2 separate regions of the Homo sapiens genome follow, and region 2 is linked to region 1. Evidence: fine-mapped expression QTL. A gene starts in region 1. The other region holds a variant in brackets. All regions are shown on one strand. Distances are from middle to middle.

Region 1 (8,339 bases):
GAGATGAGGGTCTCACTATGTCACCCAGGCTGGCCTCAAACTCCAGGCCTCAAGTAACCCTACTGTCTCGGCTTTCCAAAGTGCTGGGATTACAGGCGTGAGCCACTGTGCCCAACCCCATGCCAACTTTGTATACCTCTTTATAGCAGCTTTGGCCATAAAACAATGGAAATCAATTGCAAAGTGAAGGTGCAAATGTTGCAAAAGATGCAGAAGTGAACAGAGCCAATGAAAGTGGTCCTGAACTGCTCAGGTCACATGCAAAGCCTTGTGAATGCAGGATTCAGCAGAGTTGGACCAGGAAGTTGGTAAAAGGAAGAAAAAACTGACAAGGACACTAGTCTAAAAAAAGCAATTGAGTATTACAGGAGGATCTTGGGAAAATGTATGAACCCTTCAAATATTGTTTGCAAAAATGATAGCCCTCACTAAGCCACAAAGGTCAAATGGAAAAAGAGTATCTCAGCATGCATCAAAAAACAGCAACTACGATGGCCATTCAAAGAATTCAGAGAATCAGTGCAAGATTGTAAAGTGAGAAGAATTTTGCTTACTCTGAGGCAAATTAAATTTAATAAGTTGTAGTTGTGTTCTTAAATATAAAATCCCAAGTACTTTTCATTATTTATTACAAAAATTAATTTCTGATTTTAAGAACATGCAAATACATGCAAAATGTTTAGAAGGTTTATTAATAAGAGGGAATCATACGTATCTCTTAAGTATTTTACTTTAGCTTAAAACATATAAACAACAGTGTTTTGTTTTGGTTGGTTTGGGGTTTTTTTGGTCAATATTTGGCTGTAAGTCTTTAGTCTTTAAAATGTGGGTTCACCGTTTAGAGTTCCATGTATCTTTCACATCATCTACAATTTTCAGTTTTAGTTTTTTTAAAGTGACTACTGATAGATACCTGCAAAGTAAATTCTTCCCAATCTTTCATAATGGTCATACCCACAACTAATTTGACAGATTTTTTCAGTGCCTCGCCTCAAATACTTCCTATTAACATATGGTAAAGGAAGAACACCCTTTCAATTAAGCATGTCCTCTGATCATTTTTCTCTTAAAAAATCAGTGTGTCCATATGCAAATGCATAATGACAACCTGAATATTCACATAAGTGATTAAAATAAAAATGACTAGAAGCATCAAAAACTATTGGAAAGACTGGCACTTAGGTTTCCCCGTGGTGGTATGCGGTGGCTGGGAAGAAGTTAGAGAATTGTTAACTAGTTGATAAGTGTTGCACTGGGTACTGCCTCACTTTGATCCCCAGTTTCAATCACTTTTCTCTCAAAGCATTTCACTTCATTTTCACTGGAACAACTTTCTTTTCGCACACACATACTCATGTTTTTAAATTTAATAATCAATTGTGTAATATTTAATTAAATTTCACAAGGAACATTGTAATAGGTGGAATCAAGTTTGGGAACAAGCACAATGGATTCTCATGGGACCCATAACTCACCTAGTGGGAACAGAAGTATGCAGGTGCACACCAGCCGCTGGCCTGAGCATTTATTGTGCTGTATCATCCCTCTGCATGTTGTACACCACACAGTAATGGCTGGTATCTGTTACTGGATGAGTCAGCTAAATGGAGGCTGGTTAAGAGACCTTCTACTATAATGTCATTTACAGTGCCCTTGTAGGGAACCAATTATCCCACTGATGACAGGATTTTCTGACTTAGAACATCTGAAAACACCTGGGAAGTATGTTGTCTGGAAAGAACATGCAGAAACCAAATTCTAGCCCCAGCACTCCTGCAAGTATTCCATAATAAATATTTGTAAGCTTGAAAGAACACCAGCTTTTACCCTATTCTCAAGGTTATATTATTCTTTTATGTTTATCTGAGGTATAGATCTCACAAACAGCCATGAATATGTGAATACATTCACATACTGATGGATCTGGAATTCTACCAGTCAGCCTGATAAATACCCACTAATAAAAATATCTGTAGATTGGAATATTTTGTTTATTCATTTTTGTAGAAATGAAAAACAACAAACAATATCCTCAGAGAAGAAAAATTCCTGCATATGCACAGTAGGTGCTTACTAAATATATGATGAATGATGTACAGGCTGAAATATTTCTCCCAATGTATATTATGTCTGCTCATTCTAATATTTGTGATATTTATGTACAGTGAGGAAATGCCCAGTGTCAAAGTGGATCCTCAACGTGAATATGCTGCAGGAACTGAAGTGTGATGTAGGCAGTTTCCAGAAGCACTATGTGGAGGCAGTGATCTGTAATGCACTGGTATTAAGGTTATTGAAATGGTCATGAAATTGCCATGAAATTGCATGCGTGAAATCATTGCAAGGTTTACGTCCCAGTGAGGATGGAAATGAAGAGCTTGGAAACAGGAATTGGAGCTTTCAGTCTAGAAACAACCTTGGAAGAAATACAAGTCTCCTGAATGTTATTAAATAAATCATATTAAGAGAATTCAGAGCCTACAGTACTTGATATTTGACATCCACCTCTCTGCAGTAACATAGCAGGACTGAAGAGCACCAAAACCAGCTAGAGTCTTAATCACGCATTAGACTCAGAAACTTCTATTAACATATGGCAGAGGGAGAACACCCTTTTCAGTTAAGCATGTCCTTTGATTCTCTCTTTAAGAAATCAGTGTGTCCATATGCAGATGCATAATGACAACCTGAATATTTACGTAAACAAAGAAAAAAATGACTCAAAGCAACAAAAACTGTGGGAAAATACCAACACTTAGGTTTCTCCATGGTAATACGTGGTGGATGGAGGAAGTGAGAGAATTGTAGCTAGTTCATAGTGCTGCGCTGGGTAGCCCTCTCCCTTTGATCCCCAGTTTCAACCACTGTACAAACAGTCAAAAATCAGTTTTGCTGGAATCTCCTTTTTACTCTGCTACTCTGGCTAAAGTCTTCCACTTACTTTTCTCACTTACAGGTACCTGAATATGTGCGTGCAAATGTAAAAGTCTTTAGATCAAAATAGGAACAAGGAAAGTTTATCCGTTTCAGTTTAGGATTTGGTGGGTGTGGCAACCCAGGAAGACCTGAGAAATAACCACTGTTTGGTTTGAATGATACATTTGACTGCCATTAAAATAGCATATAATTATAGCCTAAATGTAGACTTAATTTTTAACAGATTTATCTGAACTTTCAAAATTTGTACCGTTGGGTGTAACGATCTAAAACTATCTTATGGGAGATGTTACAGCAGTTTTCAAATCATTGAGCTAATATGAAATCTGGACTTTTTAAAACCCCTCTGATCTAACCTGGTTACGCAGTTAACATTGTATCTGGGAAAGGGGCTTTCATTTTACCTAGTCTCCAGAAGTCAATGGAATTATTCTGTAAATAGTTCAGGCTTTTGTCTAAATATGTGAAGACTGACAAGACTATCTCCGTGAGAATCCGCACCCCCCCACCCCAACCTCCCCCCTCCTTAATCATGTTTCACAAAGTAAATCTATAGACGTTCCTCCTGGGTTTTGGGAGATTCCCCATCCTAAACAAACCAGCTGGAGGAAAGGAAAGGAAGGAAGAAATAAACGCAACACAGAAGTTCTCCTCAGTTGACAAAAGGTCAAAAATCATTAACGTGTAAATGTTGCTTTTTCCATCCCAAAGCACCTTCTCACGTAGAGTCCAGGGACTAGGAGGACTCACAACGCAGCGATGGGCAGCCAGGCCCTGCAGGAGTGGGGACAGAGGGAACCCGGCCGGTGGCCCGACCCTGCAGGGAAGAAGGACGTGCGGCGAGAAGCATCGGATTCGGGGAGGGCCGGGACCTGGCCGAGGGTGACATTACCGAGCACTTCCTGGCACAGCGCTGGTCCCCTCCCCAAACGCGCTATATGTGGTTCTGTACGGGACTGCCTTTCCCAAAGACAGCCAAGGAAAAACTAAAGATCGACGGGGACACCCGCCTCCCTTCCTCGCCCCAACGGTTTCTCAGAGGCTGTGGGGACTTGGTGAGGGTAGGGGGTAGTTGTCCCAAATCAGCAGCTTCAGGATGTAAGGTATTACAGAAAACTTTGAAGTTTTGTTATCTGTAGCACAGGGACAGGGGTGGGACAATAGAGAAGGAATGTTTTCTTTTCAAAAGAAAACACAAACAAAACTTTATTTTTCTGGTCCGCGGCAGCCTGTCTGCTGAACGTTGACTTGCTTTCGCTTTGCAGCAGGCGACGGTCCCGGGCGCCACCTGCGCGTCGGTGGGAGGCTGGTCCACGCCCGGGTCCCCCGACGCCCACTGCAAAGGGCAGTGGGAATGACAGACTGTAAACCCTCTCGCCTGCGTCCCCTTCAAGCACCAGAAACCCAAGTTGGAACTAATTCTTTCTTTCGGAAGGTGCAACTCCCCTCCCGCGAGCTCCGCGGTGCCGGGCCGAGATTGCCGAGAGGAAGCGGCGCAGCGCTGCCGCCAAGGCTCCTCCTGTCGCCGGTGCGGCCGGGACTACCTGGCGGCGCGGCGCGTGCAGCGCGCAGAGTCCCGGGAGCCCACGCCTCCGCCTCCGCCCCCGCCCCCTCCGCCTCCCAGTCCACCTCGCCCGCCCGCCCTCTCGCCCGGCGGAGAGCACAGCCCACTCCCTCCCACCTGCGGCCGCCGGGCCGCCCTCCACCCACACCTCTGCCGCAGGCCGGACCCAGTGCGCCCGCCCGTCGGTCAGTCCAGGCCAGGCGCCCGGCGGGCCGCGCTCACGCAGTTGGCGCAGGAGGCCTTACGCTGGCGGCGCAGTGCCCGCCCCCTGCGCTCTCCCCGCCCCCTCCCTCCCTCGCAGGGGCCGAGCGAATGTAGCCCGCGAGAGAAAATGGCGGCGGCGGCGGGGAATCGCGCCTCGTCGTCGGGATTCCCGGGCGCCAGGGCTACGAGCCCTGAGGCAGGCGGCGGCGGAGGAGCCCTCAAGGCGAGCAGCGCGCCCGCGGCTGCCGCGGGACTGCTGCGGGAGGCGGGCAGCGGGGGCCGCGAGCGGGCGGACTGGCGGCGGCGGCAGCTGCGCAAAGTGCGGAGTGTGGAGCTGGACCAGCTGCCTGAGCAGCCGCTCTTCCTTGCCGCCTCACCGCCGGCCTCCTCGACTTCCCCGTCGCCGGAGCCCGCGGACGCAGCGGGGAGTGGGACCGGCTTCCAGCCTGTGGCGGTGCCGCCGCCCCACGGAGCCGCGAGCCGCGGCGGCGCCCACCTTACCGAGTCGGTGGCGGCGCCGGACAGCGGCGCCTCGAGTCCCGCAGCGGCCGAGCCCGGGGAGAAGCGGGCGCCCGCCGCCGAGCCGTCTCCTGCAGCGGCCCCCGCCGGGTGAGCAGCACGGCCGGGGTCGCGGCGGGGACTTGGAGAGCGGGCAGAGGGCAATGAATGAACCCCGGGCACCATGCACGGCGTCCCGGGGTTCAGCGCAGCGAGGCTACGCGCCGCTCGCCGGGACCTACGCCCCTGAGCACCCCCCGACCCCTTCGGAGTCGGGCGGCGCCCCGGACCCAGCCTGGGGGACCGGACGGGGACGTGCGGAAGAGTTTGTTATTGTTTGCAGACATGTGACAGGCGTGCGAGCCTCTCTGCGGGGAACCGTTGCGAAAAGGTGTAGGGGGCCACGGCTGGCTTTGTGGGACTCCTGGAATCGGGGCTCTCCGAGGAGCCCGGGGGCGGGGCACGGCCCTGCGGCGGCGCCCCCGGACGGGTGTCCCCGGGGCAAAGGCACTGGGGGGCGAGGCCCGAGCCTGAGGCGGGCGGTGGTCGGAAGAGGGGCGGGGTGGGTGAGAAGCCCGAGGTCGGGTGGGAGACTGAGAGGACCGAAGAGAAAGTAGCAGGTCCCAGCGGCCGTGACAGGCAGAGCCCCTCGGCCCGCCCGGGACTCGAGTCCCTAGGCAGATACCGCGGGCTGGGCCCGGACGCAGGCGGCGCGCCCCCAGCGCCGGCCGCAGGGCTCCAGGAGGACGGCTCGGTAACGCCTGTCAAAGCCGTGCGGCGGGAGGCTGCACACTCGCGGAGGCTTGCAGTCTTTTAGGAAGTGCGGTTTGTCTAATTGCAGCCCCCAAGGGGCTTTGAGTGTTCCTGGGAATGCGAACTGCACTGCTAAGTCACTTGAGTGACTTCTGTTTGGAGTTTGAATTTGGCCTTTGAAGTTTGCATTTGGCGGAGTGGTGTAAGAGCCAGGACCGGATGTGTCAGCCATTCAGTTTCAAAGCAGTGGTGACTGCTCCCCGCAGCCCCTCCGGCTTGGCCCGGGGACTGCGGCGCGGGTGCAGTGCTTCCTGCTCGGTGCCCTGGCGCGGGCCGCCCGCTGAATTCCAGGGGCCGCAGTGCGGTGGGCTTCGGCTCAGATGCGTCTTCTGGTGCATATGAAGTACAGTATGTGTAAGGTAATTTAGACCAGCGGTTTATTGGCCTCGCCCATTTTTGGCTACTGGAAATTTTTATGTTAAAGGAAATTCTTTTAAGTGTGACAGCTACATCCTTGTTTGTTTGTTTTTTAAAAACCTGATTAACGTATGCAAAGTACAAAGTCTTGATGGGTATTTTGAGTTGCTGGAAATGTTTTTGTGATAGTCCCTCGTGGCCCTGTAGAATTCCCTGACCTTTATTATGAGAAGAAAGCGTGTCATTTTGTGAGACGAATTTGACAGTAGGAGTCCTTGGTTTGGATTCATTATCTAAAGTGATCTGGCATTTTTTGTGCATTTGATTATTTGCTTAAAATCACGATCCATTTAGTATTTGGAAGTCCCCTTCCTCTCCCCAAGAACTAAAAAATATGCTTCGCACTGTACCATGGCACTACTGAGACCAAAGGAGATTTGTGACTGATACAGTTTTGTGTGCACTTGTACATGTAATTTATTCTTACAAGAGTTATGTACCTCTATAGTTTTCCCATTTCTGTGCAGATTGTATTAAAACTTAACTGGAATAATTCTTTGAAGGCAACTTCTACTTTAAATGAATTCCAGATAAAAATTTTTAACCCCAAATTTAAGAAATTGTATCTATTGAGACCTAACTTTTTGGATACAATAAATAATTTAGCAAACGTCAGCATTCTAGTACTCTTAATGAGCTGTGAATATAGTAGAAGAGCATCCACTGTAAAAATAATGTACTGAAATTGTTTAATGTTGTCTCTTGACACAAAATAAGAGGACTAAGGTGGAGGCAGATAGAATTTAGGGACTAAGTAATCCATGCTTAGTATTTGCGTTTTGTAACCGAGGTTTTTTCCCCTTTGCTTAAGGTGTAGATTATAATTGCACAGTATAAGAAAATAATGGGCTTGTAAGGATAATCTTTTTTAAAGAAATTATTTTTACGAGTCAGAATGCTGTTGGTTTATCCCAAATGTCATACGTAAAGATTTCATTTATAGTAAAATGTTGATTCCCTAACCTTATGAAATATAGTGAATTTTTTTTTCTTAACAATTGGGTTGAAATTCATTTGAATCTGTTCGTATAAAACTTTGTGGGGAAAGGGCTTGTATCTTATTTGAGTGTGTATATTTTGTATTGCATGTTGGTTATGCTACACTATTACTTACCATTTAAAGTTTTAGGAAAAAAAACCCTTAATTATAGCCAACTCAATAAAATATCAATTGAACTTTATGTTTTACTTTTTTTTGACAGTTAAGTTACATTCATACTTCCAAGAGGAAAATCTAAGATTTTGAAATATTTGAGAGTTCTGTGATCTTTTTTTTAATTTTAGAATTTCCTTCTGATCTTTGAATGTAGAAAATATACTTTGAATTAGAATTTATATAAATAAATAATACTCGTATTTAAATAGAAGATTTTAAGTTTGTCCCTCTTTTTCAGGGTGATAGCTGAAATCAGTGAAAGTGCCTGTAAGTGGCGCCCAAGGGTTTGGAATTTTTCCTTATATTACAGAATTTAGGGGCTTTTTCTTCCTATTTACTGTCTTTGAAGAAAAATTACAGTGTTACTCTCCATTGAACAGCCTATTGTGAGTTTGGTAGATATAATTACCCCATCCTATTTTTGTAACTTAAAAAACCAAACTATCAATTTGCTGGCCCCGTGAAAGAACAAGATATGCTGTACTTGTTAATGTTAGTTTTTGTTTAAAACTAAAGGTATTTCACAGGCTGCTTTTATATCCTCATATAGCCCTCAGATTTCACTTCCTTTTTAAAGCTATTAGGCTAAAAATATGATTTAGTGACCTTTTACTAAAGAGGAGGTATAAGAGCATTATTACCTAAAAATTACTCTTAAAATATTAAGTGGGTGACTTTATAAAAATAAAGGTAGTCACATAAGTTAGTCTTCCGTGAATTTGTAAGTTTTTAGTTAAGAATGGTGTCAGT
Region 2 (8,339 bases), 90 kb after region 1:
AAAAGTGACTGGACTACATAGCCTACAAATGAGAGAAGGTAAGCAGGTCAGGGCTGGTGTATTAGGCCTAGGGTGTCATCAATGTTGCCATGCTTTATCTTCCCGCTCCACTCTTCTCAGCATGAGGCTTTCACCCTCAGGCTCCAACTCTGATCTCCAATCTACAATCAGGGAAAGAAAAAGGAGAATAAAAAGGTAGTGCCTGTGTCAGGAAGACAGAAACTTTCCTTAAAATGCTTACGAGATTTTCACTCACATTTCATTTGACTAGAACTCCCTAGCTATAAGGAAGTCTGAGAAGAATGGACATCAAGCAGGCAACTCTACAGCATCTACCACAATGAGTCACAAGGGAAACGGGGGAGAATACTCAGGAGAATATGTTCAGTGAGGAAAAACCAAGACCAGAACCCCGATGAAGACCAAGATTTAAGGCATAGACAAGAAGCAGAATAGATAAAGGAGACAAGAGCTCATCTTCAGAAACTAGAAACGCACAGGGTCAGGGAAATCAAGAGAGGAGAATGTTTTAAAGAAAGGTCAGTAATTTCAAAAGCCACAGACGTCAGGTAAGATAAGAACTTAAGTCTCACAAGGTGAATGGCAAGGACCATTCCAGTGAAGCCGACTAGAAGGAAACATGATCATAGCTGGGCAAGCATGGTCATGGAGATGATGTGCATAGCCTACTTTGTCCAGAAGTCTGTCTAGGAGCAAAAGTGAAGGGAACAACGTGGAAGAATTATTTGGGCAATTATGCAACCTCCAGAAGAGGGCAGCAGAGTAAAACTTTTAATTTGCACTGCCTGCCAGATATCTGAAAATCAAAGGTTATCTCACCCCTTCCTCAGGAATAGAGCAGAAATCTCAGTGTTCCCCCTTAGAATACTGAAAAAAACTCAAAACTATCACTAAGAGTTGCATTTTTCCATTCTAAAACCTAGATTCTATGCTTATCTATTGCATAACAGGGTATTCCTAGTCCCTCTACCCGCTCCTAACAGTCTACAACAAAAGGAGAGGCTGTAGCAAGATACTTGATGCCCTTTCCTGGTCTCTTGTTCTCAGAACCACTCTACTCTCAGCTGGCTGGGTCATCCATCCATTCATCCATCCATCCATCCATCCAACCATCCATCCATCCATCCATCCATCCATCCATCCATCCATCCATCCATCTGTCCATCCATCCATCCATATCCATCCATGCATCTATCCATCCATGCATCCTGCCAACTACTGTTCCTCTGAGCTTTTCAAACTCTATTTCCAGCTAGTACTCTGCTACTAGAACATTCAATGACTATCTACTGCTGACTACCTCAAATGTCCATGTTTTTTAATGGTCTGACCTTATTCTGCCTAAATCTTTATTTCCTACTATCCGTAATACAAAATTTCTGTTCTACTCCTTTCGTTACATTCCTGCTCTCTGAATCCATTGTGTTCCACCCCACCTCTGCACCTTCCCTCACACCAGTGGTTTTCAAACTTTTTGTTCTCAGAGCAGTCAAGAAGTGCTGCCACAGAACCTTCCAGTCGATTCCCAAGACTGCCAAAACTAGCTGGTGTACTACATACCTATATGGAGCATGCTGCACAGTATAGTCCTAATAGATTTGTATATTTATTACATTTTTTTACAGTCGATGGCAGTAAAGTGGCCAAAGGAAAAGGTGCCTTTTGCTAATTCATACAAAGACTAGCAGAGATCATTTTCTCCTCCTTTTTATGCAATATTTTAGGTCCTGCAGCACAAAATTATTTTAAAATACTTTGTCTAATATCATCAATATGTAACATACTACTATAATTCATAGAACTGGTATTAACTACAACATTCAATGAAGTGTCACATACTTTCCTTCTCAAAATTTTGAATCACAATATGTGGTTCTAACACTCAATTTCCCAAATATTTTTGTCTTCAGACCCCATTACACTTTTAAAAATTATCAGAAGCCCCCAAGGACCTTTTGTTCATGTGGTTAATAGCTGCTATTTACTGTATCAATATTAAAACTGATAAATACATAAAAATGCATTAATTCACTAGAAATAACTATTAAAACTTATTACATGTTAAATCAGATAACATATCTTTATGAAAATAGCTATATTTCACCCCCCAAAAAATAGGAAGAGTGGCATGTTTTATATTTTTTTCAAATCTATATAATTTTTTTTTTTTTTGAGAGGGAGTCTCACTCTGTCACCCAGACGAGAGTGCAGTGGCGCCATCTCAGCTCACTGCAACCTCTGCCTCCCGGGTTCAAGCAATTCTCGTGCCTCAGCCTCCCGAGTAGCTGGGATTACAGGCACCCACCATCATGCCCAGCTAATTTTTATATTTTTAATAGAGACAGGTTTTCACCATGTTGGCCAGGCTGGTGTCAAACTCCTGACCTCAAGGGATTCGCCCGCCTTGGCCTCCCAAAGTGCTGGGATTACAGGCGTGAGCCACTGTGCCTGGCCAAATCTATGTAATTTCTAACTTAATACAAGGCAGTTGGATCCTCATATCTGCTTGTGCATTCAATCTGTTGTTTTATCACACATCATGTAACCTCTGGAAACTCCACTGTACCCTCAAGAAAGAATGAGAGTAAAGACAAATACAACTTAGTATGATTAAGAAAATAATTTTGACCTCATAGAGCCCAGAAAAAATCCTAGGGACCCCCAGGGTCCCCAGGCCACATTTGAGAATTGCTGGCTTCTGTTAATCCCTTCCACTTCTCTTCTACTTATTTCTCCTTGAAGCACTCCCCAACTCCAGTAGCTCACACTGAAATTCTATGGTAATTAATATTTAATTTTTAGAAATTATATGTTTTCCCAAGTAGACTGTAATCTTTTAAAGTTGTACCTAGGCATACAGTTTTCAATGAATAAATATTTGCCAGTTATGTTACCCACATTAGACTACATAGCTATTCAAATAGCCTACAGAATATCCACTATCTCTAACTATTATCTCTCTTCCAGCACAGAATTGTGAAATCAAAGTTGTGCCTGCTACTTCCTCTGTCCCCCTGACACCCAATAAACACACACACACACACACCACATTTTCCTTCTCTGTGTTGGGTCATTCCCATCAACACACAAATATGCTACGAGATCTTTTATCTTACTGAATTATTCTCTGCCTTTGGCTCCATTTCTCTTCTTCTCTTTCCATAAAATTTACTGAAAGAGACACACACACTTGTTTCCCATTCCTCACCTCACATTTGCTTCTCAACGCACTCAAACACACTCAAACCTATCACCAAAACTGCTTTTGACCAAGTTATGAGGGTTCTGCATTTATTGACAGGTGACTTCATGGTCACTGCTCAATCTATGTTCTTTGCCATCCCCCTTTTCTTCCTAGGTGATCTCATCCAGGGCTCTGGCTAAAGACTCTATCACCAGCTATGGCTTCGGAGCTCCAGATGTGACAATATTCAACTAGATACTTGACATTTCTTGGAGGCATTTCAAAACTTCACCTTCCCATATCGAATCCATTGGCAAGTCCTGTGAGTTCCTCCAAAATAGAATCCTAATCCATCCACCCTCTCCATCTCCACAGTTACCATTCTAGTCTAAGCTACCATCATCTCTGCCTAAACTACTGTATTCACCTCCTAATTGGCCTTACCGGTGTGGTGATTGCCCACCTTTTCACCACATAATATCCAAAGTGATCTTTTTAAAACATGAATCAGATCCTATTACCCTCCTGCTTAAAACCCTCCAGTGGCTTCCCATTACACTAAGAATCCCAACTCCTCACCAGGACCTACAGGACTTGGCATCTTCTCTTTCTCCCTGACTTCATCTTTCACTTTTTCTTACTTACCCTGTTCCATAACCTTATTTTCCCTGCTTGAACATGTGAAGCTCCTCCCCACCCATGCTTGTCCATTTGCATTGCAATAAGGAACACCTGAGACTGAATAATTTATAAAGAAAAGAGGTTTATTTTGCCTCACAGTTCTGCCAACTGTATGAGAAGTGTGGCGCTGGAGCATCTGCTCCTGGTAAGCCCTCAGGAAGCTTCCAATCATAGCCGAAGGCAAAGGGGGAGCTGGTGTATCACATACAGAGAGAGGGAGCAAGGGAGAGAGGAGATGCCAGGCTCTTTTCAACAACCAGCTCTCGCATGAACTCACACAGCAAGAACTCACTCATTGAGGTGAGGACAGCACCAGGCCATAGGTGAGGGATCTGCCCTCATGACCCAAACACCTCCCACTAGGCACATCTCCAACACTGGAGGTCACATTTTAACAT[G/A]AGATTTGGAGGGATAAAAACATCCAAACCATATCACTACCTCAGTGCCTTTGCATTTCCCATTGGGAGAATCTCCCCGTGGATATTTTCAAGTTCGTTGCCTTCTTATTCAGGTCTCAGCCATTCATGTCATCACCCTATCGAAAATTGATACCCCTAATCCCACACCATGTGACCCACATAAAGAGAGTGGGGTCCCAGCAGGAAACAGATGACACACACAAATTAAGACATTTGAAAATAATTGTGTAACAGCATGGACAGAATGAAGGGAAACCACAAGGATAGTACACAGAACTGTGGAGTTGGCAATAATAGAGTGCTGTTACCATCCATAGGCTTGAATGAAACCCGGAAACACATAAGACTACATGGAGAGGACCTTAGGTTGGAATACAGCCAGTACACAGAGACCAGCACCTCACTCTCCTCTCTTCTTGCAGTTTCCTGCCAGTGCTCTCCACTGGTTGAATCCACTTGGAAGCAGGAAGATGAGGGACCTTGTTGATGTGCAAGCCAGTCAATCCCCCAGGGTGTGGACAGTGGATCTGGACAGGCTACATAAGATATCCAGCCCACTCTCTTCTCATTATCCTGCCTTGTTTTCTTTATTGCATTTATCACTGTCTGACATTATTTATGTGTTTACTTAGTATCTGTCTCCTGCACTAGAGCTCGGGACATAATAGAAGTTCAATAAATTATTTAAAAATCAAGTTAATCTCATTTTGAACTCTGGAAGTTACAATCTGTCCAGGCATACATGCCTTATTTATAATATTTAGGACACTGATGTTAAAGATGATTTTACCAGCCAGGTGCAGTGCCTCACGTCTGTAATCTCAGCACTTTGGGAGGCCAAGGCAGGAGGACCGATTGAGCTCAGGAGTTCAAGACAAGCCTGGGCAACATAGTGAGACCCCATCTCTACAAAATTAAAAATTAAAAAATTAGCCAGGCATGGTGGTGCATGCCTGTAATCCCAGCTACTTGGGGAGAATAAGGAGGGAGGATTGCTTGAACCCAAGAGTTTGGAGGCTGCAGTGAGCTATACCCTGTCTCAAAAAAGAACATTTTTCCTACACAGTAGTTTTGTGATTTATAGCATAAATGGGTTTTAAATGGAAAACACAGCACATACATTCTTATATTCAATTGGGTAGAGTATTTGGGGAAACTGGAAACAACAGGAAGTGGGAAAAAGAGTCAGAAGAAGAGGGTAATTTTGGATAGCAGCATATCTCCATGCCCATCGTGGCCAATCTTTTGCTTGCTATCTATGATATATTATAAAACTGTCTGTCAAATTGTCATTCTTCATTCATCTGTATTTAAAAGTTATGTAAATCAATAAAGACAGATGATTTAAAAGACACTATGAACCAATGACCTACTTAATATTTATAGAACCCTAAACCCAACAACTACAGAATATACACTCCTTTCAACTGAACACGGTATATTCACCAAGATAGAGTGCATGCTGGGACACAAAACAAGTCAATAAATTTAAAAGAATTGAAATCATTCATGTTTTCTGACACAACAGAATTAAACTAAACACCAGTTACAATAAGATATCTAGAAATCCCAAATATTTGGAAATTAAAAACACATTTCTAAATATTTCATGGATTAAAAACATAAATAACAAAGAAATTTTAAAAATATTTTGTACTGAATGATAATGAAAATACAACATATCAAAATTCCTGAGATTTGGCTACAGTAATGTTTGGAAGGATAGTTATAACTTTAGATGCTTCTATAGAAATGAAGGAAAGACCAAAATCAGTGACCTAATATTCTATTCTAAGAAACTAGAAAAAGAAGAGAAAAATAAACTACTTTATGTTTAAGTAGAAAACATAAAATAATAAAGATAAGAATATGACTGGTCACGGTGACTTATGCCTGTAATTCCAATTATTTGGAAGGCATAGGCAGTTGGGTCACTTGGGGACCAGTTCAGGCAACACAGTGAGACCCCATCACTAAAAATAAAAAAAGAGAGAAAAAAGATAAGAACAGAGGTCAACAAAATAAAAAATAAGCAGGGAAAAGTAATAAAGCCAAAAGCTGTTTCTTTGAAAAGATTGACAAACCCTCAATTACAATGATGAAGAAGAGAACACAAATCACCAAAATCAGGAACAAAAATGGGCTATTACAACAGATCATACAGACATTAAAAGGTTAGTAAGACAGTATTTATAAACAACTTTATACCAAGATATTTGGCAACTTAGACAAAATGAACAAATTCCATAAAAATATAACTTACCAAACAACACAAGATGAAACGGACATTATGAATAGCCCTATATCTTTAAAATAAGTTGAATTTATTATCAAAGAAAATTACAAGCCCAGATGTTTTCACAGGCAAATTCTATCTAAAAAATTTTAAAACATACTTCAAAATAAATGTGGGATGACAATAGCATATATTAAAACCTACAGGATCTGACCAAAGAGGTACTCATAACTGAGTAGTTATGTCAGAAATCCAAGGACGGTCAACATTTGACAATGTGTCATCATTCACTACATGAATAAATGAATAGAAACTATATGGTCATCTCAATAAGCAGAGAAAAGCATTTGATATTTATCATTCATTTAAAATTTAAAACAATAAAAATTTTTGGAAAGTCAAAAATAGAACTTTAAAAAACTTCATAAAGTATACATACCTACTAGAAAACTACAGTAAATATTAAACTTGAAGGCAAAACCTCAAAAATAGAAGAATGCAGTAGACTTAAACCAATATGGGTAGATCTTCAAGATGTATTTTTGAGGAAATCAAATAAGTTGTGGATCCTTATAATATTTTAACAATACTCACACAAAATACTATGTATTTTCTATAAAAACATACGCGGGTATGTAAATACATAAAAATAAAACTGGCAGAAAACACACCCGTCTGATAACTTCTGAGAAGCGCCAAGTACCAGGATTGGTGGAAGTACAAGGTACGGTGTTTGGTTAAGGGTGACTTGAGCTTTAGCTACCATGTTTCTATTTGTATAACTTTAGATGCTTCCATTAGAAAAGAAGAAAAGATTAAAATTAGTGACCTAATAACCTACTTTAAGAAACTAGAAAAAGAAGGTTTTCATTAATTACTTAGCTAACCAAAATTTAATTTTAATACCATAAATATAAAAAAACTGTAAAAATATACAAAAACTGATTTTTTTCTTTTTTTAGACAAGTACATTACCATAGGTAAAGATTAAACTAGTTCTTTTGGGTTCTTTGTTAAGTTTGGAGACTATAAAGAAACTTTCTTGTATGCCACTTATTAATACATCCTGGAACTGAATTGACTCCATTTAGCAAGTCAGGTAAATCTAGATTATGCCAAATTATCAAACAAACACAGAGTCTGAGAGAAAGCCTCTAGAGTTTGCTAACATTCTATATGATATGAACGAAATAGAGACATTGGTAGATACTCTTTCTCTTTATTTCTTTCAGAATAGAACAAATTAGTCCCGCAGCTACTGGCGATTGGCTGAATTTTTTTTTTTTTTGAGACGGGATCTCACTCTGTCACCCAGGCTGGAGTGCAGTGGCGGATCTCGGCTCCCTGCAACCTCCGTCTCTCAGGTTCAAGCGATTCTTCTGCCTCAGCCTCCTGAGTAGCTGGGACTACAGGCACGTGCCACCAACGCTCGGCTAATTTTTGTATTTGTTCTTTTTTAGTAAAGACGGGGTTTCGCCATGTTGGCCAGATTGGTCCCGAACTCCTGACCTCAGGGGATCCACCCGCCTCGGCCTCCCAAAGTGCTGGGATTACAGGCGTGAGCCACTGCGCCCGGCCTTGGCTGAGTTTTTATTAGATCTGAGCCGTTCAATTTCAATAGTTTAGGATCCAACCTCACTCTCAGGCAAAGAATAGAGGAAATGATACCAACGTATTTATCTGTCAATAAACACTTGGTGATTTGAATATGGTTAAGGGATTCCTGTAGTTTGCCCCCCTTAAAACTGAACTTTGTCCAAACCTGTTCTAAATATGTGTGTGCGTGTGCATGCATCTG

Alleles and levels. Positions count from the first base shown, and alleles are read on the strand shown. Sizes are in standard deviations (SD) of each study's normalised expression.
In carriers of allele A in region 2, the expression in regulatory T cells of the gene that starts at base 4,808 in region 1 tends to be higher than with G alone (large effect, 1.4 SD a copy in Bossini-Castillo 2019).

Evidence for each region. PIP is the estimated chance that this variant, and not a neighbour inherited with it, causes the effect. A credible set is the group of variants that fine-mapping cannot tell apart.
Region 2: its variant is the best candidate, but not a certain one, in a credible set for the expression of MAP3K1 in regulatory T cells (Bossini-Castillo 2019, PIP 0.90).

What each region holds. Positions count from the first base shown.
Region 1 is chr5:56,810,742-56,819,080 of GRCh38, forward strand. MAP3K1 (mitogen-activated protein kinase kinase kinase 1) reads left to right here and starts at 4,808. Exons shown (of 20, transcript NM_005921.2): 1 at 4,808-5,314. The coding sequence starts at 4,833. RefSeq lists enhancers at 4,036-4,165, 5,617-6,440 and silencers at 4,526-5,295, 5,366-5,485, 5,666-5,905.
Region 2 is chr5:56,900,255-56,908,593 of GRCh38, forward strand. No RefSeq gene overlaps it. Among named protein-coding and RNA genes, the nearest start is that of SETD9, 5.2 kb to the right of the region's middle. The variant G/A (reference allele first, on the strand shown) is at 4,285.